7 separate regions of the Homo sapiens genome follow, and regions 2, 3, 4, 5, 6 and 7 are each linked to region 1. Evidence: fine-mapped expression QTL. A gene starts in region 1. Each other region holds a variant in brackets. All regions are shown on one strand. Distances are from middle to middle.

Region 1 (4,067 bases):
CCAACGCTTTATTACGATATTTGGATTTCATGTGGCAAACTGTTTCATATACTGTCCCCAAAAATGCTACTCTCTGAAGGGGAATGCCATAAATAAAATACGTACTTGGTTACCAGGCAGCATGCATAACACATATGGTACATTGGCCCAAAAATCATATTTTAAAATGTTTAAAAGTTAACTTAACAATTTAAGCTGTTTGTACCCATTTTCAGAGAATTATTCCCTAAAGGCCAATTTTATTTTCTATCATCAAGAGAATACTTTGATTAATCCTGTTGATCTGCTAACTTGAAATTCTTTGAACCCCTCTAATCTCTCCTCCCAGACCCATTTTTTTTTCTTTATTTCCTGAAGGGGAGAACGAAGGACCATTTATCTCACAATGTAATTTTAAGCTTATGCTTAAAATGCTGCCTATTTGAATTAAAATTGATGCAGCTTGTGATAAGAACCTAATAATCAATTCTCCATTCTCATTACTCTCCAGAATTACATGGATGCAGACCCATTTCTTAAGTTTGTGGACTACTCTCATAGGTTATTACCCGGCAGTGCAGCTGAGTGGAAAGATAACCACATTCATTCTCCTTATCTGCAATGATGTAATGCATCCTAGCCCTGGGTCTAGATGATTGGGGAATAATGGGATTGTACAACTGCAGGGATGACAAACAATAGTGCAGCGTCTTTCTCTGATACACTGAACCCCACGCCTCCAACGCAAGGTGAAAGGCATCACAAAATAGGCACTGAGTCTGCCCCTTGGATGAAGTTAGCATTTTTTGGCCCGAGGAGCATCTGCTCTGGCACTGAAACAGCAATACCGACACGGAGACGAGAGCCATGCAAAAACACTCAGTTTCCGAGCCCCAGCCAGGACAGTGCGAGTGAGTATCCTGCTTTTCTTTGTGGTTAGAATCAAGTGTCATCTAAAAATAACCGGTTGGTAGGAAGAAGTCACTGCATAGTACAATGCCAAGAAACCCGGGGATCAGAGAGTCCTCCGATAACTGATGCTGCTCGGGGCTCACGTTTGTTTGGAAAACTAAATCTGCCTCCATTTTCTGTGCCGGAAAAATCATCGCTTCCTGCCACCACAGAAACCTTACCTTTTGCAGAAGCTGGGAACCGGAGTACTTAGCAGCAATGGATTTTATCTCCCCACCAAAAGCCGAGGCCCAGAGCTTCACCCTACAGGGAGAAGGGGCACAGGAAGATATGTAACACCCGTGTCACAGTCAACACGCACGCACACGCACACGCACACATGGGACTATGGCTGAAGGAGCAGTGCGATGTAACATGTTTTAAAAGAAGAAAAGATAGAAAAAGCGGCTTGGTAGAAACTGCCAGCACCAAAACTGCAAAGCGCAGCGCGGGAGGGGGCCCGAGGGGGGTCGCGGAGTTAAGAATGCGCAAAGTCTCCCAGGCTCTCTAAAAAGACCACTGAGTTTCATTCGAACCACTGCCCGAGGACTCGACCCCCCAAACTGGGCATCACCTGGCAAATAGCAGTCAGAAGAAATCCACCCATCCCCCCCCCAAAAAAAGAAGTGGGGCGGCAGTAGAGCAAAGAGGGGGGAAATTCAGCGGCCCATGGAAGTTGGATTCGGTAACCAGGCTCCAAAGTTGGTGCCGTCACTTGAGGTGAGCCTCTCCAGATCTCACTCGGCAACCTGCGGGCAGGGGCCAGAGCATCCCACCCCGGCCTCGCCGCCCGACGCGGGTCCCGAAAGGCAGGTGCGAGCGGCGAGGCCGACGCCCGCGGCGGGTCCTGCCCAGCCGCACCTGCAGGCGCCCAAACTTGGGCACAGTGGGTCGCAGGCGGCAAGGTCCCCTCCCCGGGCGGCGCAGGAGCCGGCACTTACACGGAGAGCGGTATCTGCTGCTCCGAGCGCACCACGTCCCCCAGCGCGGCGTAGAGAAGCGCGGCAGCGAGAAGCGCCGAGGCCCCCCGGGACGCGCGGCGCGGCGAGCCCGGCCCGGCCATGCTGGGCTCCCTCCGACGCGCCCGCTGCGGCGGCGACGAGAGCGGCCGCGGGGAGCTGCGCGGAGCGGGCGGTGGGCGAGCGCGCGGGGCTGCCTGCTCCGCTCCGCGCCGCCCCGCCTGCCTCTCGCGCGCCCGGCTCACTTGGGGAGCAGAAAAAGGAGCGGGTGGGGGGGGCGGGGAGGGCGGAGAGGAGAGGGAGGGAGGAGAGGTGGGGAGGGAGGGAGGAGAGGTGGGGAGGGAGGCGGGCGGGGGAGGAGGCAGCGAGACGCGCCTCTAGCAGCAGCAGCCGCCCGGCCCCGCCTCGGCGGCCCCGGGGAGTCCGGCGGGCCGCGGCGGGAGGGCGGCGGGGCAGGAGGCGCCGCGCGGGCGGGGACTCGGAAACTCCAGTGTCCTTGGCCGCGGCGGAGCGCGCCCTGCCCCACCCGGGCTACTGCGGCCGCTGAGTTCTTTACAACTCCGCAGTCCGCCACCGCGGGCGCGACTCTGGGGCTGGCCCCGGGCCGGGCGACCCTAGCCAGGGTGGGGGTTGGGGGCGCGGGAGGGAAGCCGAGGGCAGGGCGCGGCGCTCCGCACTTTGCGGGCGGCTGCTAGGAGAGGGCGTAGCATGCCCGCTCCGCCCCTGGGCCGGGCGGGGTCGGGGGCCGCGGAACCTAAAGGGGGCGCGCCCTCCGCCCCCGCCGCGCGATTCTCCTGCGGGGAGGGAGCTGGGGAAGAAGCAGAAATCTCAGAAAGGAGCACAGGCTCGCGGCGGCAGGCGGGATCGCACGCGGGGCGGATCGGGCTGGGGATGGGACTGGGTGGGAGCTCGGGGCTCTGGCTAGGGCAGCGCTGCGTGACCGCCCGCAGCTGCTCCTCCGGCCGCGGCGCCCGACAGGGGAAAGCACGGAGGGCGGTGCTGCCACCACGGCTTGGGCGCACCAGCGCGGGGCTCCCGGCATCCGGCCGCAGCGCAGCGGCCCCCTGCGCGCCCGACCCAGGCCCCGGGGCTCCCCAGCGGCCGCTGCCTTCGGAGTCCGCCCGGCTGCGGTGACTGGTGGGGACCGGGATGTCAGGGTTGAGCGAGGAAGCCAACGCGGCGCCGAGTCGATCCTGACCGGGGGACACCCTGGATTTCGGGATAAAAGATTTCTCCGAGCCTGGGGGATTGCCTGCTCCCCACTCCGGCGCCCACCGCACTGGGCAGGAGGCAGTGAGCGCCGGAGGAGGCGCCTTCTCGCCGCCCTCAGGGGCGAGGAGAAAGGAAGCCGGAGAAGCCCCTGCGCGTTCTGGGAACCAGGCTTCTCCCCGCCTCTCTCGCCGCTGCCCCCACCCCGGGACCCAGCTTGCAGAACCCCTCTCCCCCGTGCGAGGTATGGGGTGTGATTGGGAACTTTGTGGAGCCCTCGCGCAGGCTGGCGGTAAAGACCGACCGGAGTGAGGCTGAGTCATCCTTGCCCGGCCAAGCGCAACTCCGGTGACCCCAGCAAGGAGTGCGCTCCTAACGTCGCCGGGGCTCCCGGCGCACCAGACACCTGGGTTCATATTTGCATGCCTTTCTGCAACCAGGGCTTTGCTTTCTGCCCCGTCACCCGCCCTTGGCCTCAGCATCCTCAGGTTGCAGGGAAGTAAGGGCGGGCTCCAGCTTCCGCCAGGTGGTGTCCGGCTAGGAGCCAGGCCGGCTCTCCTTTCCAGTAGTCCCTGGAAAAAGTTACCCCTGCAGATGTTGGGCTTGATCTCAGAGTTGGCAGCGAGGGAGAAGGACTGCTACCGAGAGGCTCTTAGTGCTTTTCCCGAGTGCGGGCAGACCCGAGCTCCCCTGGGCTCTGGCAGGTCGCGCTCCCACCTTGGGGGGCAACGCAAGGAACAGGCCCCTCTCCAGGAGCGCCAGGTGCGCCCCGCCCGCGGGCAGTGTCTACAGCCTCTACGGATGACTAACCGGTTATAATGAATTCTCCGCTTCTGTGCATACCCTCCGCCTGAGGAAGCGTGCCAGCCCTTTCCAAACCGAGCCAAGCGCGGCCTGACCCCCGAGGCAAGGGGTCCCAGGAGTTGACCCTCAAATTGGGGGTTAGAAGAAAATGTGTTTTCCTATCAG
Region 2 (4,067 bases), 860 kb before region 1:
CCTAGCCATTCAGCCGCAGAAGAGTAATAAACCAGGGGCCTGCCTACCCACTGGCCACCGATGTGCAATGGATCTCTCAGGGAAGCTGGAGGGCCATCCTTGCATTTCCTGCCATTATATATTTAACAGCATCAAATATGCCCATTAAAGCACCACTTGAAAGGCTAACATTCTTCCTGGGAGGCCAAGGGAAGGGAGACAGCATGGACCCCCAGGGAGGCATTCTAACACCCGATCTCATGGGATGATGGCTTTTCCCAGAAGTTTAGGTATTCCCAAGAGCATGGCTGGCCTGCCCATGAGGGACATGGGGCCATAAGGAAGCTGCTCTACACAAGCTTTATTCAGGATCAGCGAGAGTTCTTACACCTGGATGAGTAGTCAGTATCTGCCACCTGTGGAATTTGGCACCATCTAGGTTTTCTTCCAGAAGCAGACTTAAACTTACCTCCATCAAGAGCGGATTTTGAGAATTTTCACTTGATTTTCTAAAACAACATCAAGAAGTCTCTAAATACCACCTTTCATCCCCAAGTTCCAGATTTCTAGGGAGCTTCCCAGGTTAATCAATAGGAGACAAAATACACTCCACCCTTCCGGCCAGGTGAAAACCTTTCCTACTTCTTCGCAGTGACTTGCTTCAGACTGACATAATCACATCACAGTGCAGCCTCCTACTTCAATACTGGCCTCCAATAAATGCTCTGCTGGGTGAACAGGAAACTCATTGTGAACTGAGTTTCTAAGACTCTAACACTCTAACACTCGTGCAAGAGGCATCGAATTTCAGAGAGATCTTTTGGAGCATGAACACAAGTAAAAACCAGCCACAGGGTCAAGTCTGGGCTTGCTTTATTTGACCTTGGCTTGTTTTATTTTATTTAGGAAAACTTTTGGGGGGAATGCAGTGGACCATAAAACCCTTACCTTTTAAAGGAGCCCATTGTTAGCAATTTGTTCATCACAGCTCCCTCGATCTCACCAAAAAAGTCTCCAGTCTATGGGGAAGAAGACATATGAGGAGGTGTAGATAAATAATGTGCCCAAACAGGAGAGAAGAAATGAAAAGGGACACAGTCTGTGTCCTGGAACTGACAGGAGCAAAAGGCAGGTTTTCAGGAAAGTGGAAAAGGTTTTAACAGTCATGAGAACTCATGGGATTACACAGCAAACTAGAGAGCAGATGTGAATGCTTCCACAGTACGTGGGAGGGGGCTGCGTAACCCATGCTGAATGCTGAAATTAAAACACGCATGCACACACATGTGCACACACACATACCCCACTACCCTTGGATGGAGTAGGTAGTAATATGCACATAATCCCGTGTGATTAAAACACTACTTCATATAGGCAGAAACAGACTATGAGAGGGCTTCCTAAGCACTAATAAAAAGAATTGTTTATAATTCCTGGACGACCTGTTTAGGGAAATACAGCAGTCCACTTCATCAGCCCAATAAAGTTCCTGCAGTTGAGAATCCACCCTTTCTCAGAATCACTTTCTGAGGATCACTTTCATTTTGTCATAGGCAGTTGACATGTTGACCAAGAGTAAGACTATCCAGCCCCTTGAGGAGACAGCATGGCCAATGAGACTTCTAATGGCCTACCCCACACCTGAGGCTGTCTTAAGGTCATTCGAAGCTTTGCAGTCATTCCCCACCACCAGGCTGATGTTTTTGTAAGTCTACTTCTTGGTGCTGGCCAAGATTTGCAAACTTTGGTGGAATGAAGAATTAACATCCTCATGCATGCCCTCTGAATTTCTGGAGCTACTATCATGCAAGGTGTCCCATGGGGGAGGGCGTACGCAGTGCATGGAACAGAGCCTGCAGTAAGGGCCTTCTGCCAACATGCTGAAATGAGCCAGTGTTGACCAGAAGAGAAGCCCCATCTCTACTCTGGGTGCTCTGAAGATTTGTAGCTTGTGAGTGGGTGGGTGGGTGGGTGGAGGGCACTGCAATAAGAATCCAAATTATGTATATTCCGTAGGCTTTGTATTAACTAAACCCCAATTCCATTGCAACTAACTGAGTGACCTCAACCACACTCCTGGGAGTTTTCAGGTAGCAAGACACATATATAAACTTTGGCAAAATGTAAAGGGGGAGAAAAGGAGGAAGAAGGAAACAACATTTCTCTGACTGAATATTGACCACTTCCTTTTTCACTACAGGGAAACTTGGAAACTT[T/C]TGCAAACTCTGTGGGCGTGTACTACTGCTAGGAGCAAGAAGGACATTTGTATTTCGTGTGTGTAATGTGCCAGTTTCAATGAAACTGGTTGTTAGATGAAGAATTATCCTAATTGGGGCACAGGAAGTCAGACAACATCAAACAAGCCCAGGCTGAGCAGGCTGGCAAACTCACTGGGTCTATCGCAGGCTTATTCCATGGAGACATAGAGCAGAGAATCTGTAGTGGCCATGGCTGCTCATGGCTGAAACAGAGACACTGTTTCCATCATTTGTTGGCTGCTCCAGGACTCACCCCCGGAAGACATCCACTGCACCCTTCCTGAGCCCCGGGATCATTCCTCTCTCACCCCTACATGAGTAGAGCAGAAGACTAGAGCTCCTCCCTCTAGGCAACTAATGTGTATTCTTGCTCCATAGATTCTTGAATGCCTATGTTCCTCCTCCCAGCCAACAGGGCATATAACTATAGGCCAAAGGACTTTCCTGCTGTCTCAGGGACTGGCCTTGTTTCATGGGCCCATTCATCCTATCTAATGTCCACGGACTGTCCCATGTCTAGTGATGTAAAGCATCAGAGGAGACTGGGAATGGGCATTTTGAGTCTCAATAGCGCAACCAAGGGGCACTGAAAATCCTACAACATTCTCATAAAATAAGACAGGAAATGAAAGCACAATTCCTCAAGTTTCCTGGAGCCCCTGTTTATAAATTACCAAACCATTCATTTCAGACCCTAAGAAGCCACACTTAAGGACAATTAACTAATTGATTAAGCAGTGAACCTATCATACTGCTGACTACTAAAGAATTTTAAATGATTTAAAAGAGACTTCATTATAATGTATTAGTATACTCAAATATTTGAATTAGAAGAAACCTTATATCGTCAACCATCCTCATTGCACAGAGCCTATCTAGAGGTCTAGACAAGTTAAGGAACTTGCTGATGATCCCAAAACTAGTTAAGGAAGAGAGCTAACATCAGAAACCACCTTCCTCCTGTGATGGCGTTACTTTATTATATGCACTGTTGAACTTGTTTGTATTTTACCTTTTTTTATACGTTAATGTAATTTCTAATTGCAGGAAAAGTTTTAATGCAGAAAATTTGAATGGAAAAACTCGTTTTTCTATTACAGTACCATCGACTTTAACTCTTATTTTGATTTCCAGGCAGAGTGGAGATTTCTGTGCTCAAGTCCACAGCTTGGTTTCTTTTCATCTCTCTCCCTCCCACCCCTACACTGCACATGGTGCAGTCAAATGAAGAATATTCCTCTTCTATCTCTGGACCCTTGTCCCTCGGTGTTGAGAGCCCAAGCTGTTAATCCTTGAACTCAGATAACTGATTTTTAAAAAGCAAAAACCAGAACGAAAGCCATAAACAATAATTATGTAGAAACATACGTGTATGTGTGTGCACACATATGAAGATGAAATATCGGAAGGAAAAAAACCTTAAAGTTGCCCAAACTATTTAAGGCACCCCACCCTCGAGGCAAAAGTTCTTTATGTGGCACAGACAACTCTTTGGCTAAGAGTTCTATAAATTGAACATTTTATGAGTGAGAGAACAGACCCTGGGCACTGTCACCCCCCTGCACCCCCCAGTGGGAGGTAAAAACTCTTTGGGGCCTGCTGAGAAGCAGACTGTGGCATTCTTAGAGGGATGGAAATAAGGTTTTATAATCTCCTGCTATTACCTCCTAAATAAAGATCATTGTCTCCAAGTTTTAACACCATAATTTGTTCCCCCTGACCCAAGCACATTCTGAGATCCTTACTTGGAGCTGGTAGAAAATTTTCACTCACCTGTGTGTAGTCTTCAGACACCAAAATAAATCCATTATTGTCTATGAGGTAACAATT
Region 3 (4,067 bases), 860 kb before region 1:
TTCACAAAAAAATGTAAAGGGTTATACAAGGTTTATGAAAATCTTACCTCGTGGTCAAACTGATTAAGACTGAATACATTTGTCTATAAGGTTTTATTAAGAATTGGATTTAACATTAATAGTACACTAATGCAAAGGTAAAACTTGGCTTATTTGGTATAAAAATCATAACAGGAAGCATTATCAAATGTGAAACAGTGTTTGGCTTTCTTTGGGATATATTTATATAGTTGTGCTATTGGTATGTGTTCCAAAATTATAAGAAGTCCTATAATTCTAACATGGCTTACTGTATGTTATTAATAGTTATAATTGTTATGTAAGATTTGGATGCCACAGAAGTAACCAAATTTCTTTATCAATTGTGGCTTTAATAGTGGCTGTCCTAAGACTTTTTATCATCCACAGACAACTGTTGTCTTGTTTTAATCTTCTTCAAGAGATGGTTTATAATCAACTATAGAACTCTGACAGTGCTATTGAATGCAGATTTCTGATAATGTTGGAGATTGTGACATTAGAATAGAGGAAGAAAGTTTCAGGACTCTCACAGAGAGCTGAAATGTTCATGACAGAACAGGAGTTCTGTTCAAGCAGAATAGGAGTCAACTGCATGAACTGAACTAATAAAAAACTGAAGTAATATTTTTCTTTTACTTTTTTGCTTAAAACATTGCTGATCCTTTTTGTTTTCCAGGGCCAAGAAAATTTTTCTTTTGAGCTATTTACAGCTTTTAACAATTGAGTAAACTATACTTCTGCGAAAAAATTTAGAGAATATTTGTTTCTCTCTACCTGGTTCCTCCAGAATTTGGAAACTATTTGAGAGTATCTTAACTTATGGCAATATAGTTATTTGCATAAATGCAGTAAGAATCTCTTTTCTATTGTAATAGGATACAACTGGAGAAACTGGTTATTTTACCAAGGCTTTGACTGGAATGGTGTGTTTACCTTTAAGGAATCAAACTTGACTTAGAGAGCCAAGAAGAGCCCCTTGAAAAAAACTAGCCTCATACCTTGTCTACACAGTCCCTGTACAGGGTTCCTGACCTGTGGTAAGTAAAGAATGTCACCTTCTGAAAGGCCCAGGAGCCCCAAGTTATTTTGGGACCTCAAGAGGAGAAGAATTTACTCAACTCATAGATATCTGGGGTACAAACCCATGGCTAGGCTTGGCTTTAAAAAAAAGTCTTATCTGAGATTCCCTCTATGGAACAAAATTTCATCAAAGACAAATTTAAAAGCCTATGTGAAAAATAATTATTCTTGCTGCACTGTATACAAATAATCAGGCCAAGTATAATAAAGCAAATTAGTCTTACTATGATTTGTCTCCAGCAAAAATGGGAAACTAGAGAACAATTATGTTTCAAGAACTGTGGTATAACCTGTTATTAAGTTCTAGTCTCATCAGTTGATTTTAAGGTTTTTTTCTGTAATTTAGGCCAACCCTGTTTATTCCTGTGAACCAACCAGTGATCTCTTGACTGCTGCTCAGAAGAAACAACAGGGATGGGTAATGTAAAAATCTGGATCAATATTCTAATTCTGGGCATGTATTGGAATCAGCTAGCAACCTCATATCAGCTTGGTTCCAATAGTTGCCCAGTTCATGGAACGCCTTATTTAGTTTACTTGGGATAATTTTACTTATTTTGTTTTACTGTTTTGGAATACGTTGCTATTGTACTCTTTGTGTAGAAATGCTGGACAAGCTTACTAAATGTTTTCTTACACTGAGCACTTTTTAATCTTCTAGATATCATCTTTTGTCAGAACT[C/T]GGAGTCATGAACGGCCCTTGCCATACCAATGCTTTCTGACTGAGCTCCTCTCTATCTACCCTGAATGCAAGAGACCCAATAGTTAGGCAGGAATGGCATTGCCCCTATCAGCTTGAAGAAGTTACAGAAGATGCATCTTTATCCCTCTGCAACCCTTAGGATTAAGGGTTTTCTTATAAAAGGGACGGGGGAAATGTTAGAGGTGTTTGAACCAGAGCAACTCCATCTTGAATAGGGGCTGGGTAAAATGAGGCTGAGACCTATTGGGCTGCATTCCCAGACGGTTAAGGCATTCTGTGTCACAGGATGAGTTAGGAGGTCAGCACAAGATACAGGTCATAAAGATCTTGCTGATAAACAGGATGCAGTAAAGAAGCTGGCTAAAACCACCAAAACCAAGATGGTGATGAGAGTAAACTCTGATCATCCTCACTGCTACACTCCCACCAGTGCCATGACAGTTTACAAATGCCATGGCAACGTCAGGAAGATACCCTATACGGTCTAAAAAGGAGAGGCATGAATAATCCACCCATTGTTTAGCATATCATCAAGAAATAACGATAAAAATGGGTAACCAGCAGCCCTCGAGGCTGCTCTGCCTATGGAACACCCATTCTTTTATTGCTTTATGTTCTTAATAAACTTGTTTTCAGTTTACTCTGTGGACTTTCCATGAATTCTTTCTTGTATGAGGTCCAAGAACCCTCTCTTGGGGTCTGGATTGGGATCCCTTTCAGGTAACATCATGATGCTCATTCTGCAGATACAGACAATGAAGCAAGGGGCGGCTAACCTCTGTTGAGTCAGTAAATACATGTTGAGTACAGAAGTGGCCTCCATATTCAGATACTGTCAATATTCAAATCCCCACAGCTGCATATAAGGCCACAAATCATCATAACCTCTACTCCTAGTTAAAACTTAGTCCCTACTCCAACATCTCTAACTAATTAGTACTCTTGCTATTAGACCTACATCTTTGGTCAATATCTTTCTGTTTGCCTAATACTGTAAATATTGAGCAATGCAATACAGGTACAAGGCAAATAGATTATAAAGTCAATTGAAAATCTTGACAAAGAGGCAAGATTTCATGAAGTCCATGAAAGTAACGTTAAACAGCTCCAATCGCACAGGAAGCCATTGGCACATTAGAATCTGTCAGAGGCAGAAAGATGAAAAAATACCTGCTACAAATAAAACATGAGCTGTACTTCCAAAGAGAATAATTTCAACAGCAAAGGACTAAGAAAAGTACCCTAGGAAAATTGATCAAACTCTTTACTATATTTTACCCTTTTTGTGGTCATTCTGAGAAAAATCAAAATATAAAGTGAAGGATTTCATATTGTGCTATTTTATCATCTTATCAGAAACACTAAACTCCTGGCCCCTTACCCCATTTGTTTCTTTGGAAAATTAGAGTACAATTGCAAATATAACCTAAATTTATTTAAAAAATAAACACAGTTTCATACTTTCCACTTTATTTAGAGAAAAATATTCAAAATAACTTTTTATTATTTGCTGTAAACATTTGGTTCTTTTTCTGACCTTTCTTCTTAGAACGAGGCCCTCCTTATAATGCTCCTTATAACAGCCAGCACCAGTAGAAGGGAGATCAGAAGACTCACTTCTCAGGCGTCTGCCCTGCTCCCTCCCACTCCCACTTCTGGTGTGGAAGGAACAGAGCTGAGAGCTCTGGAGCAGGGGCAAACACTGCTTTAACTCAGAACTTGGAAAACCAAGCTGCAAAAATAGGGGAGTGGCCTCCTTGGGAGAATACCAGATGAAAACTATCACACAAAGAAGTTTTTCATAAAACATGACTGTCACTAATAATAGTAACAATAAGAATGTAAGAAGAAGAATAAGGAGGATGGCAGCTACAGGAGGACATCGACTCATGAAAACCTCACTTTTCACAGCATCAAGCAGGGAATTTTTCTCTTGGAAAGAAGAGAAAACTGAGATGTTGTCTTTTTTTAATTATTATTATTATACTTTAAGTTTTAGGGTACATGTGCACAATGTGCAGGTTAGTTACATATGTATACATGTGACATGCTGGTGCACTGCAACCCACTAACTCGTCATCTAGCATTAGGTATATCTCCCAATGCTATCTCTCCCCCCTCCCCCCACCCCACAACAGGAAGGGGAACATCACACTCTGGGGACTGTTGTGAGATGTTGTCTTCTCCAAGGTCACACACACACAAGTGAGACTTGAGTCCATTGCTATGGGACTCCAAAGCCCACACTCTTTCTACTGGCTGA
Region 4 (4,067 bases), 76 kb after region 1:
GTGCCCAGCAGCTGCATTCTTCATCATAGCTTCAAAGCCAGTAGAACAGAGCCTTCCCCAAAGGCCCTGCTTGGCTCAAATGCCCATTGCTAAGCCAATCTCTGTGGCTAAGGGTGGGGGACATGCAATGCTCTGATTGGCCAGGCTCATAGTACTCATACAGTCAGCCCTCCATATCCGCAGTTCTGCATAGATGGATTCAATCAACTGCAGATCTAAAATATTTGTTTAAAAAATATTCCAGCAAGGGGGCAACAAGGAAGCTCTTAAGAGCACAGCTGGAAAGAAGCTGAGTTACAGATATCCTGCCAAAATAATTTCTTCAAAGCCCAGACTTGCCGTACCCTATGGCCTCAAGACTCTGCTCAGGAAAATTAGCAAAGCCGTTCTCAAAACCAACCCACCGAACATGACCCAGTTTGCAGCAGTTTATTTTAAAGAACTTATTATGTATAGAGAAGGGACTACTTCTCTGGATGAAGTGGTCAGAGGGAACAGAATCTAAAGTGCCTACACAGATGGAAAAATCTACAAAGACAATGTAACCGGAACAGGATGTAGTGACAAAACCACCCAGTTTCCATCCATTTATGCTGAGCTAGGCACTGAGCAAACTGAAGCAGTTCGTGATCTTTCTTCCAAACCAGCCACCCCTAAGACTACTACCCCACCCTCATAACCATCTCCAACAGCTGTTTCACCAGAGTTTGCCTATGTCCCAGCTGACACAGCTCGGTTTGCTTCTCAGATATTAGCAATGGCAGCAAGTGAAGCAGGACAACCACGACGATATTCTAACATGTGGACCCCTTATTGTCTAACTGATAAGAATCAACAAAGTCACCCATCACTGCCACCTGCACCTGGGCCTTTTCCCCAAGCAACTCTGTCTATCTAATCCTAAGGATCCACAGTTTCTGCAGCATCCACCAACTTACAAGATGATCTCCAACTTACAAGATGATCGAAGATAGTAAGACCAGTGCCCCACCTTTTATCTTAGTAGGCTCAAATGCTCAGAAAGCAAAGGAATGGAAACCTCTTTCTGGACATGCTGTTGTTTCAAAGTCAGAAGTTTTGAAGAGATATGCTGCAGTATAAGTGCCCATTGCTGTTCCTGCAGATGAGAAATTCCAGAAACTTACCTTAAGCCCCCAGAATGCTCATCTTGCTACAAGTGGACAAGATGTCCCCAGGCCAGAAAGCCTTGTTTTTCTTTCTGTTGCTTTCTTAGTAGAAGGGGTAGCTTTAAAAAGTTCAGGATCTGGTGACAAATGTGCTCCCTTTGGAAGTTACAGTATTGCTTGGGAGATAACTGTGACTCATGCTCACAAAGTTCGCAAAGCAGAAACTTAAAACTGATCCAGAAATGACGCTGTTTGGGTCAACAAACGTTCAGGGAGGAGTCTGCCACCAAGTGTAACATATCAATAAACTTCACACAAGTACAAAAAATATATATATTCTACAAAGGTTCAAAAAGCAAAACTTGAATTTGCCGCGCAACAAGTACTAGAATGAATCCACACAAATGAAGTGATGTGTAGGCATTGTGTTAGGTATTATAAATAATCTAGAAATGATTTAAAGTATATGGGAGGATGTGCGTAGGTTATGTGCAAATACTACACCAGGTTATATCAGGGAGTTGAGCACCCACGGATTTTGGCATTTGTGGGGGTCCTGGAACAAATCCCCCATGGATACTGAGAGATGATTGTAAATCCTCTGGAGCATATGGACTGAAAATGATGCTGTTTCTTTCAGAAAAAGGAATGAGGGAATGGACACTGGATGCCTGTATTAGGGCGCTTAACATTAGCTACTATAACAAGCAATCCCACGTATCCATAGCGTGACTCAACAATCAGTTGTATTTTTCACTCGTGCAAAGTCAAATGCAGAGATGTTCTGGTTGGGCAGTTCCCTTGGCAGCTCTCCACCAGCACTGACTCAGGAAACCAAGCCTCTTCC[A/G]TCTTGGGAATGCTATTACCCACATCACATAGTCTCCAAGGTTGTTGTGGAAGGGGCAAAGTGAACTGGATGAAGCATAACTGCTCTCAGCTGCCTTGGCCTTGAAATGACCCAGCAATCTGCCCTTGCATTCACTGGTGAGAACTTAGTCACAAGGCCCACACAGATGCAAGGGGGCTGGGAAATACAATTTAGCCATGTGCCTAGGAAGAGGAAACAGATTTGTGGCCACCTGGCTTATCTCTGATACAAAGGCAAACACAATCCATTTCAAATACACAGCCAGAATTGCCCACTGGCTCTACTCTGGTCAAACATTGAGTCAGGGCCAGCAGTGTCCTGAGAGGTGATCTGGTTCCACTCTCTAATTGAACAGATGCAAAAGTAAGAAAAAAAGGGCCTTTCCCAGATCACTTGACACTGATGTAAAGCATATGGATTTAACTAAAAGTCTCAAAAAGGAATGAAGAGGCATTCCCTCTCTGCAGATGCCAGAAACTCCTTCCAACTACCAGCTTACGGAATCTTGCTCTTATCAAGCATGGAATAGTAGAAATGTGGCGGGTTTTATAGCCAGATAGCCCTGAGTTCAAATCCTAGTTCTATCTCCTTCTAGATTGAACAAAGAATTAAGCTCTCTGAGCCTCAATTTACTCCTCTCCCCAACCACAATATTCAACAAGCATTCAATTCCTACTCTCTTCTTATTTCCTACCGTAATACCAGTGATACCTAGAGTTTTCCAGGAGTGACTGATAGTTACTCTTGGGCCCAAGAGTATAATATATTTTCCCAACTTTTTTATGGTCAGGGCACTAAACCCAAAAATACTTCTACAGAAATCTGTAGAAGCTCTGAGGGTGAGGAAGTATCTCTTTGCAGAGGTGAATTAACCTTTGTATAGTAAACATTTTACCCCCAGAATGTACTTTGCTGATTCGATTATCACAGTTCCTGCTAGAACTTGGCTAGCTAAGCTGAAAATTGAGATATACTAGCTTCTCTCCAGGTCTTAAACAAGAATAATCACTTCTTCATAGGAGGAAGTGTCTCCATTCTTGGAGGTGACCAAATTCTAGGTCCTTTGCAAGCCTGTGCCTGGTAGACTACCATCTAGCAGGAGACCTCAACTCGCCATTTGAATAAGACACAAACTCTCAGTCCTCAGGCCAAAAGTGCATACCATGACTAAAGTGTTAAACAAACTGTCCGACTCCATGTTTCCAGGTCCTTTCTAAGGAAAGCAAGCTGTTTGCAAAGTCAAGGACTTCACCTGTCTCAGCAGGACCAGACCAGGAGACTAGCTTGGTTTCCAACACCAATAGCCACCCCAGGGCTGTGCGCAGCAGAAGCTTCCCCACCCCAGACAGCCCCCCAAATTTGGGATGGTCCTTCCCTTCCTTAACTCATCAAAACTTCACTTTGTTGCATGACTCATTGCCTCAGATCTTTGCCAAGCTCTCAATCAGCCAACCAACTTGATAATGTGATTCAAGGCTGCCAGTGATAGCATTTCCCAAAGAGCAAACATTCCTTTAAACAGAGGCCTCTTTGAGACAAACCACCTGCTTCAACCCCAGAAAAGTACATCTGAAAAGTAAGTTTGGTTGAGAAGGCATTTCTGTGTCCTGGGAATTCTATCAGTTTAGCTTTGTCTAAAAGTATGCTATATCACAAAAATTGGCCTCAGGTCTTGAGGCATTCAGTGATTCCTCAAGGAACATGGCCACGGATACTGTCTGAATTCCCTCCACATTGAATTAAGCTTCTGGGCAAGGGGCATTATAAGTGTAACACATTCATCATGTTTTGCATTTGCTTTTGCCAGGCTACACAAAAGGTCATTATAAAGTTTTTAAAATCTCATTTGGATATTTCTTAGAGGAGGTCTGCATTGTATCTATCCACACTTTCAGGAACATTATGGTTTCCTCTTCATAATACCAGCTTTTTAAAAGGCGTGTCTTTATTTCCTTCTGTTTCCTTTTGCTGGCCTTCAGAAACTGAGCCATAAAAGTGTGCCTGAAGTGTGGAAAGTGAAAACTGAGAAACAAACATATATTCATTCCACTTTGGGTTGGTTACTTTACAAC
Region 5 (4,067 bases), 880 kb before region 1:
TGTGCATGTGCTTGGAGTCTCATAGCCATGGATGCAGGATGGCCATGGTTTCAAAAGTTGGTCCTGTCGTATATACAGGGTACATTCTTTTTTTTTTTTTTTTTGATATGGAGTCTCACTCTCTGTCACCCAAGCTGGAGTGCAATGGCATGGTCTTGGCTCACTGCAACCTCTGCCTCCCAGGTTCAAGCGATTCTCCCACTTCAGCCTCCCGAGTAGTTGGGACTACAGGCACATGCCACTACACCCAACTAATTTTGTATTTTTAGTAGAGATGGGGTTTCACTATGTTGGCCAGGCTGGTCTCGAACTCCTGACCTTGTGATCCACCTGCCTCAGCCTCCCAAAATGCTGGGATTATGGGCGTGAGCCACCGCGCTCGGCCTCCAGGGTGCATTCTTGAGCAGCTTGCTGGTACTCTTCAAAGGCTTCGTTTCCTGACTTATTAAACAATTACAGAGATGTTCTGAGATCTAAATAACCAGCTGTGTAGAAGTACACTGAAATATGCTCTAAGTGTGCCAACGTTGTTAAGATCCTTACAACAGAAGACTGATTTTATTCTTTGTTAGAGTTCGGGCTCTTAAAGCTGCACTGTTCCCAAAGGCTCAAGAGAAGGCAATGTGACATAGTGAAAATGCCATCTTTGAAGTCAGTAATACCTGAGCTCAAATCCTAACTCATCCACTTACAACAATGTCTTTTTAACCCTCTTGGTGCCTCAGTTTCCTATCTGTGAAATGGTGAGAATAATGACTACCTTATAGGGTGGTCATAGGGTTAAAGAAGGTTATCTATGTGTTGCATTCAGCACAGTGCCTGCTAGAGAGGAAGTATTCCAACAGGAGGCAGAGCTATAGCTGCTGTTATAAGTATTGGTATCTTTTCATTGCCACTACCAATTAATGGGCTGGTGTTTAAAGGAATGGGAATTGACACAGGCATTACCCAGCTGGCTGAAAGATGAACAAGGCTCCCGGTTTTCTTAGCTCATTGGCATAGACAATGCAGAGGAAAATCCATGCTTGCTACTGCAATACAAGGACACCATCAGAAGCTGTGCTGGTGTTACCAAGCGATGATGCAGGAACTTCTGTCCATGGGCTTCTTAGCGGAAGGCAATGATAACAACAGCTGATGTGTACTGAACTCTGTTTAGCAACCATAAGCGAGGTACTCCTCTAAACACATCCCTATAAGATAGATTATAATCATCTCCATTTTACAGAGGGGAAAACCAAGTCTTAGCCAGCCTAAATAAATATGCCCAAGTTCACATAGATCATTGGTGATAGAGCCAGATTTAGTAGGGGGCCAAGCTGAATCCACCACCTTTTGCTCTCTGCTCAGAAGCAGGCTCTGACAGATTCTAAGAAATGCTTAGGCTTCAGACCTGTTCCCCAGCCCAGGGTCTTATTGGAATGTCACAAAAAATGCTGCCCAAGATAACCAATGTCCAGAATCAACTTTCAACCCAAGCTGAAGGGCTGATGAGTCACCAGGCCAGACTGGAACAGCTGGCTGCACTTGTGAATACTTCTTACCATGGTAACCACTCTGACAGATGGCAGGAAACTCAGGATTCTCCTTGGATCATTTTCAAAGGCTCTAGTTTACATGTTGGGGCTAAACTAAATTGCTCTGGGGCAGCCCCCAGGCCAAGGTTCCTTTTATTTATTTATTTATTTTTAAATATTACTTTAAGTTATAGTATACATGCGCAGAACAAGCAGGTTTGTTCCATAGGAATACATGTGCCATGGTGGTTTCCTGTACCTATCAACCCATCATCTAGGTTTTAAGCCCCATGTGAATTAGATATTTGTCCTAACACTCTCCCTCCCCTTGTTCCCCACTCCTCTATTTCAAAAGGAGGCTTTCCTGATACTATTGCCATTGACGAGGTTACAAAATAAGCCTTCCCTGTCTTCTCCACACTTGGACAGCTTTAACTAGATATTGCAGCAGGAGACTTCCAGATTATTACCCTTTTTGAAGTGACTTTGTTACTGTTTTAAATAACTCCATTTTGCGGCTACCTGT[A/T]TCCTGTTCGGCTGATTACAGTTAAAGAACATGATAATTGCCTGCTTTCATTTGACTCTAAAATCAGCTCTGAGAATCATGCCCAGCCCAAGACTGGTGCTGTGTGCAGCTGCACTCAGCAGTGGGGGTGTATTCTTATTACAGATAACATGCCTTAATCCCCATGACATCACCACCAGGCTACTCCAACCAACCTTATCATTAGCATCGCTGTGTGCCCACATGGATGGTGGAACTTTGAAACTTTAAACTTTGACAGAAGGCAGATACGGCCTCTGAAGAAACAACTCAAAGCAATACAAACAAAGCCTGGTAGCCCTGCACCCATGCTGGGTAGAGCCTTGGATGACAAACTCATGACATTAAGACATGTTTAAAGCCATTTTGCTGATACTGTTCTTTCTTTTCCAACTAGACAAAAATCCTGACCAAGAAAAATATTTGCTCTAAGAATTAGCAGGCTGCATTTTAACAGCATAAGCTCAGCTAATTTAGGCTGGCTAATTTAGGGGTGGTTAGCAACTGTGGGGCTCAACATTTATTAAACACCTACTATGTACCGTGAGGCCAGGTAATTTTCCTGTAATGATTCATCAAATTAGCTCACTTTGGCTAAACAACTGGCCTAAAAACAATCTTGAAACAGCTTAATGTCTGCAAATACAGCCCTAAAAACAGGACAAGGGAGGCATTAGACATAGAGACCTATCATGGGACATAATTAAGCAATTCCGAATTGAAAAGTCTGAGAAGCAAAATGACTCACTAAGGTAGCATGTAAAAATATGTCTTCTTTGTTGCGCTATAAAATGTGTCCTCTGGGGGCAGCTTTCAACTTGCAATTGAAAAGGCATGGGGGAGGAACATAGGAAATTCTTAACAAAGAGACCGTCGCCATGGGAAGCCCTTACTCATTCTTACATCTCAGAAAGCCAGGAAAGTAGAAGGCTCAACCTGTTGATAGGAGTGCTAATAGAAGATTCAAAATGTGCTCTCCCTTCTCTCCTGCTCGTATCAGTCATCATCTCATCCCACAGCAACTTCTTGCAGAGATGGCACTGTTCTTTAAGATTGGTGCAGTGTCTCTAACACAGCAGAGGCAGTGAATTTACAAAACCCTGGTCCTACTGCCTTTGAGCCCTCCAACTGGAAATTAGTTAAACAACTTTAGCTGGCCGGGCGCGGTGGCTCACGCCTGTAATCCCAGCACTTTGGGAGGCCAAGGCGGGCGGATCATGAGGTCAGGAGATCGAGACCATCCTGGCTAAAATAGTGAAACCCCGTCTCTACTAAAAATATAAAAAATTAGCCGGGCATGGTAGCAGGTGCCTGTAGTCCCAGCTACTCGGGAGGCTTAGGCAGGAGAATGGCGTGAACCCTGGAGACGGAGCTTTCAGTGAGCTGAGACCACGCCACTGCACTCCAGCCTGGGCGACAGAGCAAGACTCCATCTCAAAAAACAAAACAAAACAAAACAAAACAAAACAAAACAAAACAAAACAAAAACCAACTTTAGCTAATGAGCACCCATCATTAGCCAAGAATAAACCACACAGGCTATCAGGACCTCCCAGGGTTCACTGCTGAACACTGAATGGGGAGCAACAAGAAAGCGTCACTCATTTGGTGGATTAAGCAGAGGGTCTGTTGGCACCAAATCAACACCTTTCATCAACAGGTGCTGATAATATAAAGAGAAACAAAATTGTAGATACTGAGATATTAATCCCATCAGCATCTTACCCAGGTAAGAAGAACAGTAACCATAAGAATTAATTGATTAAAGGCCAGGTGTGGTGGCTCACGCCTGTAATCCCACAACTTTGAGAAGCCAAGGTGGGCCGATCACTTGAGGTCAGGAGTTCAAGACTAGCCTGGCCAACATGGCAAAACCCCATCTCTATTAAAAATACAAATTAGCCTGGCGTGGTGGCACGCACCTGTAGTCCCAGCTACTCGGCAGGCTAAGACATGAGAATTGCTTGAACCCAGGAGGCGGAGGTGGCAGTGAACTGAGATTTGTG
Region 6 (4,067 bases), 850 kb before region 1:
GGAGGCCGTCTTACCTCATCATCACAGCTGATGGAGCATTTGCCATCCAGGGAAGCACACTGTGAAGGCAAAAAGTGGAGGGAAATGTGTTACTATGTTACTTGGGCATCCCAGTGCCTGCTGTGGCTGCCACTGAGCTACTTAAGGACAAGCTATCCAAGTCATGGGCTAGAATTCAAATACCCAATTTCATTGAAAAGGAATGCTCCATGATGTGTCTTGTCTACTATCTCTGGAATCAGTATCAATTCCAAGTAGTAATGTAAAATAAAAGATCTATGAAACAACTGAGCGGGGTGGGGCAGGCACAGTGGCTCACACCTGTAATCCCTGCACTTTGGGAGGCCAAGGAGGGCAGATCACTTGAGGTCAGGAGTTCGAGACCAGCCTGGCCACATGGCGAAATCCCATCTCTACTAAAACATACAAAAATTACCCTAGTGTGGTGGCAGGCACCTGTAATCCCAGCTACTCAGGAGGCTGAGGCAGGAGAATCACTTGAACCAGGGAGGTGGAGGGTGCAGTGAGTCGAGATCGCACCACTGCACTCCAGCCTGGGAGACAGAGCAAGACTATCTCAAAAAAAAAAAAAAAAAGTCTACTTTATGTTGTCATTAAACAGTAATGATATCTTTTTAAGATCTCAAATCTTTTGGTAACTAAAAATACAATTATGTAATTAATTTAAAATTCATTAATTCTCAGTGACTTTAAAAAACCCCTGTCCATCTCCTTAGTTTATAGCTTCCTAAAGTATCTTAATTTAAAGGATGATAAGCCATTCTAACATTTATTCTTGGTCAGATGGAAGCAACTTATCAGTGGCCCTTTCTACCAAATTACTCAACAAATACCACTGAGATGACTTAGTACAGAGAGCATAGCGAAAAGAAAACAATGTTCCCAGATTCTCCAAGGTAGACCCTGTGAACAAAGAAGTCAGATACATGTTTTGGAGAAACTAGTTACGTAAAGGGTTTCTAGATTTTGATAATGAGATTCACAAGTAAGTAACCAGGCACGACCACAGGATTAGGAGAAAGTCAGAATGAAAATCTCACAAAAGGCCCCAATACTTAAAAGAAAAACTCCTTTGGAAGGTCACTATCTTGATCCCACAATTAAAACTGTTCCTAGGAGCAAATTCCCTGCTTTGCTCAGCATGTGGTGTCTAACATGCTGACAGCCCTTTATTTTGCAGTGAAATGAAAGGTAATCTGAGCAGCCGGCAGTTGATTTTACAAACATTCATCGGAAATCTGGCACTTTCAGGCTCCAGGTACCCAAATGGGAACACCTGTATAATAACAGTGTCGCTAATGCTTCAAGATGCTGATTATAACTTACCTGTCTGCTGGCAGTCCAGAACTTCCTTTGGAAAAATTCAAGTTTCATCTGAATGCCTACAGCTGGGACAAATTATAAATAAAACAAGGCATTAGTGATCCCTTTACACAATTATTTAAGATTATCGTTGAAAATTATCCGTCATGGCAAGAAGCTGATATAAGCATATAAAATAAAATGTACAGTGAAGCATACAACTAAAACATTTTATCTTTCAGGTAAAGAATTCTCAAGTTTACCTGCACTCACAGAACTCTCGATACAAAACAAACAGCACAGTGCAGATCGCTCTTTGGAGACATGTTACTTCGGCATTTCTAAAATTCATATGCTTGCACCACTGCCCCTACCCCCACCCCAACACAAGCTGAGAAGAGGAAAGAAAAAAAAAAATTCAAAAGATCACTATTGCTTCAGTTCCTGTCAGCTATTACTGTTTGAACTTGCATGTCTAAAATGTGTACTCTGCATG[T/G]GTTTTTGAGACGTAACATTTGAAAAGCACTTGTCATGAGGCTAGAATTCAGAAGTGAGTCACTTTACTATAATGTGTCTTAGTTTAACTGGCCTCCTAGAGTCCACATCTCAAGGTTCTTCTCTCCCATGGAACTCTGGTAAAATTATGTAATTTTTTCTTTGTCTGTGAAAAGCTTCCTAAAGCAACTGTGAATGCTAGTTCTAGTGACAGAAACAGCCAAAAAGAGAAGAGGTTAAGAATGTGACTTGAAACTTTGGGAAGTGAAATTTAGTGGAACCTCAAAACTATAACATGAGGAAGTTCACCTTATTTTTCTCCATGAAGCCCAAACCACTTGAAAGACCTGAAACCATCTCAGGAAGTAAAATGGTAAGGGCAAAATGCTCCTCAGATGGTGGGAAAACTTGAGAGGCGTTCAGAAGAATGAGACTACAGGGAATACTGAATTCCCTGGAGCACGTCATTTACCCCAGTGCAGTTTTGCAAACTGTAGTCTGTTGCACACAACCTCCCCATTTTTACCATATTTGCATACCACCAATACTCTTATTGTCCTTCCACATTTCTTTCTTTTGCTTAAAGACCTACAGTAATTCAACCTAAATAAAACTGGAACACCCATCAAAAGAAATACACAATTGTAAGAAAAAAAATCACTTAAATACTCTAAAAATTTTGCGTGCCACTATACTGGACCTCCCATTTGGGTAATCATTGTTGTGCTGGCTTCAGGAACTTGGAGATTCATAAAGGTCTTGGGCTGTTGTTACCCTGATAACTATCAAGGGCATTTCTACTTCCTAAAGAAATTGTTGAAGCCAGCCCTGAGAGTAAAGGTTAACTGGGTGTGTACATTGGGAGAGATTTGCCATCTGTGTTTGCACTTAGAATTTCCGACTCTAGGATAAAGACTAGAGCAGTGCACGGCTGCAACATGCAGAACGTGAAAAGCCTCTGAAATGCACCATGTCGGTGCCCAGGCTCATTCTGCTCTGCCTTAAGTGTCCTTCGTTCTCTGGACCACAGCCTTCCCAAGAATGAGGACCTGTTCTTGCTCCCTGCTGGACCCCTGCCTCCAGCAAGATGCTGAGTACACAGACGACCCATAGGTAAATGCTTGCTTTTTAAAAAAAACTTTCAAGTGATATTATAGTCAGCAGTTAGAGAGAAATATAGAAGAGTAACACCTATGCGAATCGTTTGTTTGTTTGTTTGTTTGAGACAGAATCTCACTCTGCTGTCCAGGCTGGAGTGCAGTGGTGTGATCTCAGCTCACTGCAACCTCTGCTTCCCGGGTTCAAGTGATTCTCATGCCTCAGCCTCCCGAGTAGCTGGGATTACAGGTGTGCACCACCACACCTGGCTAATTTTTGTATTTTCTGTAGAGGTGAAGTTTCACCATGTTAGCCAGGCTGATCTCTAACTCGTGGGCTCAAGTGACCTGCCTGCCTCAACCTCCCAAAGTGCTGGGATTACAGATGTGAGCCATGTGGCTGGCTTGGGTATGTTTTAAAAGTGTCCCAGATGATTCTCACGCACAGCCAAGGTGGGGGATGGCTTTAGTAAATCAGCTGTTGGGGACCTACTGTGATGTGGGCCACGTGGCCAGACTACACAACACAAAAGCTGTTCTTCCCAGCATTGGAGAACATTTCAGAGAATGCCTGAAAGAAGCTGATTTTGAGTCTGATGGTAGTTGACTGCATTTCAAATAAATCTCATCTTCCAAATGCCTGACAGGCCAGGGTGCAGGGTGCAAAACAGGGTCTGACTCCCTGAAAGAGTCACTCCAGGGTAGCCTTTCCATGGTGCTTCTCCCTCCAACAGCCCAGAGCTGTCCTGGGCCCACCTGTCATCTCTTGAGCTTCCATGAGTCTCCTGATGCCCTTTCTGAGACCCCCACCCCCGTTCTCTGATGGAGCCCTCATCTTCACCTCCCTGATGAAGCCAGCTGCTCCCCGCTGGGTGTTTATCCATCTCACATACTTGCAGTCTGTTCTCATCTGCCCCTGTCGGTCCTCTACCCCAGCTCCTTGGGGCGCTTTCATCTTTCCTCATGAGTCAGTCCCTCCATCCCATTAATCATGCAGGCTGCTTCTCTCTGATCTCCCTCCAGCAGGCTGCATCCTCGTCCTGGTCCTGATGCCCTGAACTAGAACTGCTTCCCTCTCTCCTCACTCACACCCCTGCCTGCACCATGAGGTTGTTGCCCAAAGGCTCCTGGATAGTCCTGGCTGCAATTGTT
Region 7 (4,067 bases), 760 kb before region 1:
CTGTTCTGGGCCCACTCCTCCTCTGTGGACATGCAAAACCTAATGACCTGCAAGTGAGTCACTCAAGGCCACTCAGGGAGTGGTGCCCTTCAGAAACAATGTCCACCACCCCTGTGAGCTCCTAATGCTGGGACAGGTAACCTCTCTGAACTACTAGGGAGCTGGCAGATGAAAAGGATAGCACATGTGACAGCAATTTTAAAATTTAAAGAGCTATAACAACTGCTCCTGTTTACTGAGAGTTTACTGTGCCTCTGTGCTTTATGAAGATAAGAGGGTCTGGGAACTTCAAGGTGCTACTTACTCCCTCTGACCTATGTAAATCATTTAAATGGTCACATTTCCCTTTGGGCCAGGGCTGCCATGAAACACAAGTGAAATACGTGGCTCAACTGTGTAGGAGAGACTAAGGCTCTCATATCTCTGTTTTCATGGTTTCCCCTGGGCATGAGTTATTTCATAAATTTGTATTTCTCCCAAGTACTGATTTTTATGTATGAGAAGAATATACTTGAGGGATGATTCCTATTTACTGATACTCTGCTTTCATCCATAATGCTGTTGACTGTGAGTTACTCATAGTCAACAGCTTTGTGGATGAAAGTAGAATATAAGTAAATTAAATCACAACCATGAATCGGAACTCCTGTCATTCTGAAATCTAGGCACACCAGGGAAGAAGAAAGGTATTAAGAATTATCAAGTAGGCATTCGTTTGAGTGGAATGTCCAAGGGACTGGTCACAGGTGCGGACAGATGAACAAGTTCTTCAGCTAACTCAGTAGCTAGCTCCCGAGCTTTCCTCCCACACCAAAGGATAAGACGAGCCAGGCAGTATCTTACCTTCTTCGATGGTTACATTCCCTCGGAAGAAATATTTCCCATGACCTCTGGAAAGCGCCACACCTAAACTGTGCAGAGAGACAAAGCAAATCTTGAAATCCCTGGCATCGACTCGAATAGACTTGTGGGCTAACATTTTTTAATTTTCCATTTTTCACATTTCCATTTTATGATCTGTCAACAATTTTTCCAACTGTTTACTTTCAAAACCCCACTGATTATCACTGGTGTTGGTTTTTCTTAGGTTCAATCAGCTGCTTCAAAGTAACTTCTGATCAGAAATGCCAGCAGCAATTGGCTACTCTTTGTGTTTTCAGAGTTGTGGCAAACTGCTCGCCCTTCCAGCAAGCCCTTCTCTCAGATGCCCTCCCAAGGACCATGAGCCCTGCTCTTTATACACCCTTGTCCTGCATTCAGCCAGAGATGGGTCTCTCCAGCCCCTAGACTTTGGGACTCGGGAAATTGACCCCTGCTCAAGGGCAAAAACAAAAACTTCCACTACTACATGAGTGTAACCACATTACTGTGTTGCAGGCTTCTTTGCCCAATCCTCTCCCTAGTCTAATAGGTTTTTCACACTCACTGGCTTGATTTAAGATCCATTCCGTTTTTATCAAAAGCAAGAGACTATGTTTTTAAAACATAGTCCCTTACGTTAGAGAGACTATTTGGCAAACCCACTTAGCAGCTCATGTGGTCCTTATTTGCTCCTGGTTCCACATGGAATCCACCCATGATCCTTGGCAGTTTAGGACAACAATGCTAGAATTTATTTTTCAGATTATTCTACAGTCAGTAAACTCCTTCTCTCCTTAGCTCTGAGACGCCAGTTCAGGAATATGAAGCAGGCTTACTGAAATAATTTTTTACAAAATGAATTACAACACTAAGTTAATAGTAGTGGGAAACTTTAGAATGCTACATACACATCTGAAAGCAGCCAATGAGGCAAAGCCATTTTTCAGGACTGTTACAAAGAGAAACAACAGGATTCAAAAGTAGACAAGCACACAAGGACAGTTCAGAGAAATGGAAACAGAGGCACAACATGTAGGAATGGATATGCCACCTCCAGGTTTGAAGGATTGTTTTTTTGGTCATGGAAATAAAAGGTGAAATGGAACTCACAAAGCAGCAAGTTCAATAGTTAAGGACCCTGGTAACCCTCTGCACTTGTCTTCACCCTTAGCGGGAACCCCCAAAGCATATTTGCTTGACAATGAGATGCAAAGCCATGGCAGATTGAGTGAGTTCTCCTAGGTGAGCCTGAACCATCTCCCC[C/G]CCTTCTGGAAAACAAAAGCAGCCTGGGAAAAGCCCCTTCCTCACTCTTTCCAGCCTTTTGGCAGGGTGTTTGGTTATCTTCAGATGATGAGCTCTGAGAGTGTCAGCAGGTTTTGTACAAACACAACTGATGGGTCTGATGGAATGTCCATGTATTATGGTCAGCTCTACCTGAAAGGAGTACCCTTGATGTCTGTATAATAGTAGTCATTTGTCATCACCAAAACCCGTTTCTAGATTGAAAAAAAAAAAAAAGTCGTAGAGAAAAGAAAACATGGTTAGTCTGCTAAGTGACGTCTTCAGAAATAAATAAAAATAAATGGACACACTATGATCAGGTTAACAGTACTACATGAATCTTGTTTGAGATAAGTAAAGACAAGAGAAAAATGATCTCAGCGAAAGATATTTATTCCAGATATAGCTTTCAAAGCTAATTTTTCACAGTGGTTTGTTTTAAATTAAGCAGCAAAAATGTTTGAGAAAAATGTACCCCTTTGTCCACTGTCTTCTTCACCTCCATGGAAAACTTCCCCGTCTTTCGATTCACCATAGCATTTCTCAACTAAAATGATAAAAGAAAAGTGTGTTAGTTCTTCCCTGGGTTATCATGTAATCTGGACATCTTGCATCCTCAGCGTGCAGTGGAGCCTCCATATTGAACTTACACCTCGAAAACAGAGCTTCTGAAGAATAAAACACCCAACTGCTCATGTACAATGGGAGACAGGCTAACAACAATAAATAAATGACCTTCATCTTTAATTTGGGGAGCTCGTGTAAACTTCAGGACAATAACAAAAGAGCCTTGGCGATACTGATGAATCCCGGGGGTCAGAGCGTGAACTCCTGGAGACCCGCTGAAATGCCGAGCAAGAACGTCTCTGGGGACAAGGTACGTTTTCAAAAAGGGTACTGATTTGTCATGGAGAAATCACTTTTCAAAACGTAATCAAGTTAAAGACGTTTTCCTACACAGTAGTTAAAAAGAAGAAGAAAAAAAAAAAAAAAGGCCAAGCATTTGGAAGACAGGGGTTAGCCTTTCCTAAGATGAATCATCTTTAAATGCTCTCTGAGAAATCTGGGCCAATTAATGACCTTGCTGATGAGGCAGTGAACAGGAGCGACCCTGTATCTGATTTTTTGGAGGTCCTGTTTAGGAGCAGCGAGCCTGGCTCTCCTCCCCCACCCCCAGCTGACCTCATCTAATTACATGTGGCCCTTCCATGAGTTCAGAGGAGGACAGCAGACGCAGTGATGAAAGATGTGCCGTCATGGGCACCAAGGCAAGACGACAGAGAAGGCCAGTTAATGGAATAGGAGCAAACGCTGACATGCCACAGCCTGTCAGGAAAGGCTCTCTCCCCACCCCTCTCTTGTCTTTTTCATCTTTTCCCCTCTTTTCTCCTTTGAGGAGCTTGAGTAAGATCTGGCCGATAGAAAACTGCAACACTAGCAAGCAACCTAAATTTGATTCGAGGCTGTCTAGATTTGGGTTTGCATTCTCATCTTCTGTGTGAGTGAGTAAAGGCATAATTTTTAGCTGGAGGCATGTATAAAATAAAACATATATTTTACTCTAGATATTTTTTTAACAACACATAATAGGCATTTCTGGAAATATTTTCCCATTTTAACTTTTGTGGTTTTGGACAGGGAGAGCTGGTCCTAATTAAGTCTACTTTCTAACTTTTAAGAACGGCTCGATTTATCTTTAACATGGTTTTCATTTTTCCTCTTTCTGGTGCCTGCCTAAAGCCATTTGGGACCTTCTCCTCTCACATTCCCCAGGCAAACTAGAGATTAGGTAAGCCTCGCTGTGTCTCCATGCCACCCCACCCCCAACTCCCAGTAGCACAGAACAATCAACATGGGGGTCTGGGAGTGTCCAAGGCCAGGGTCACTGATGCCTCCTTTAGTCTTGCCCTTGTCTTAAATCATAA

What was found.
Region 2: its variant is fine-mapped to the expression of CACNA2D3 in whole blood (TOPMed, PIP above 0.99).
Region 3: its variant is fine-mapped to the expression of CACNA2D3 in whole blood (TOPMed, PIP above 0.99).
Region 4: its variant is fine-mapped to the expression of CACNA2D3 in spleen (GTEx, PIP above 0.99).
Region 5: its variant is fine-mapped to the expression of CACNA2D3 in whole blood (TOPMed, PIP above 0.99).
Region 6: its variant is fine-mapped to the expression of CACNA2D3 in whole blood (TOPMed, PIP above 0.99).
Region 7: its variant is fine-mapped to the expression of CACNA2D3 in skeletal muscle (GTEx, PIP 0.99).

Annotation. Positions count from the first base shown.
Region 1 is chr3:54,120,640-54,124,706 of GRCh38, reverse strand. It overlaps CACNA2D3 (calcium voltage-gated channel auxiliary subunit alpha2delta 3), which reads right to left and starts at 2,155. Exons shown (of 38, transcript NM_018398.3): 1 at 1,872-2,155; 2 at 1,113-1,194. The coding sequence starts at 1,993. LOC124909381 (a long non-coding RNA gene) reads left to right here and starts at 1,265. Exons shown (of 2, transcript XR_007095914.1): 1 at 1,265-1,650. RefSeq lists a silencer at 3,349-3,398.
Region 2 is chr3:54,984,614-54,988,680 of GRCh38, reverse strand. CACNA2D3 (calcium voltage-gated channel auxiliary subunit alpha2delta 3) reads right to left here. Exons shown (of 38, transcript NM_018398.3): 30 at 4,011-4,067; 31 at 928-998. Among named protein-coding and RNA genes, the nearest start is that of LRTM1, 59 kb to the right of the region's middle. The variant T/C (reference allele first, on the strand shown) is at 2,196.
Region 3 is chr3:54,976,200-54,980,266 of GRCh38, reverse strand. All of the region lies in intron 29 of CACNA2D3 (calcium voltage-gated channel auxiliary subunit alpha2delta 3), which reads right to left. Among named protein-coding and RNA genes, the nearest start is that of LRTM1, 50 kb to the right of the region's middle. The variant C/T (reference allele first, on the strand shown) is at 1,784.
Region 4 is chr3:54,045,039-54,049,105 of GRCh38, reverse strand. It overlaps the pseudogene CABYRP1. Among named protein-coding and RNA genes, the nearest start is that of CACNA2D3, 75 kb to the left of the region's middle. The variant A/G (reference allele first, on the strand shown) is at 1,975.
Region 5 is chr3:54,998,195-55,002,261 of GRCh38, reverse strand. All of the region lies in intron 31 of CACNA2D3 (calcium voltage-gated channel auxiliary subunit alpha2delta 3), which reads right to left. Among named protein-coding and RNA genes, the nearest start is that of LRTM1, 72 kb to the right of the region's middle. The variant A/T (reference allele first, on the strand shown) is at 2,044.
Region 6 is chr3:54,965,792-54,969,858 of GRCh38, reverse strand. CACNA2D3 (calcium voltage-gated channel auxiliary subunit alpha2delta 3) reads right to left here. Exons shown (of 38, transcript NM_018398.3): 28 at 1,348-1,409; 29 at 15-59. It also overlaps a transcript of LRTM1 not described here. Among named protein-coding and RNA genes, the nearest start is that of LRTM1, 40 kb to the right of the region's middle. The variant T/G (reference allele first, on the strand shown) is at 1,820.
Region 7 is chr3:54,877,640-54,881,706 of GRCh38, reverse strand. It overlaps CACNA2D3 (calcium voltage-gated channel auxiliary subunit alpha2delta 3), which reads right to left. Exons shown (of 38, transcript NM_018398.3): 19 at 2,618-2,689; 20 at 2,296-2,357; 21 at 844-911. CACNA2D3-AS1 (CACNA2D3 antisense RNA 1) reads left to right here. Exons shown (of 7, transcript NR_046666.1): 4 at 2,763-3,019. Among named protein-coding and RNA genes, the nearest start is that of CACNA2D3-AS1, 22 kb to the left of the region's middle. The variant C/G (reference allele first, on the strand shown) is at 2,125.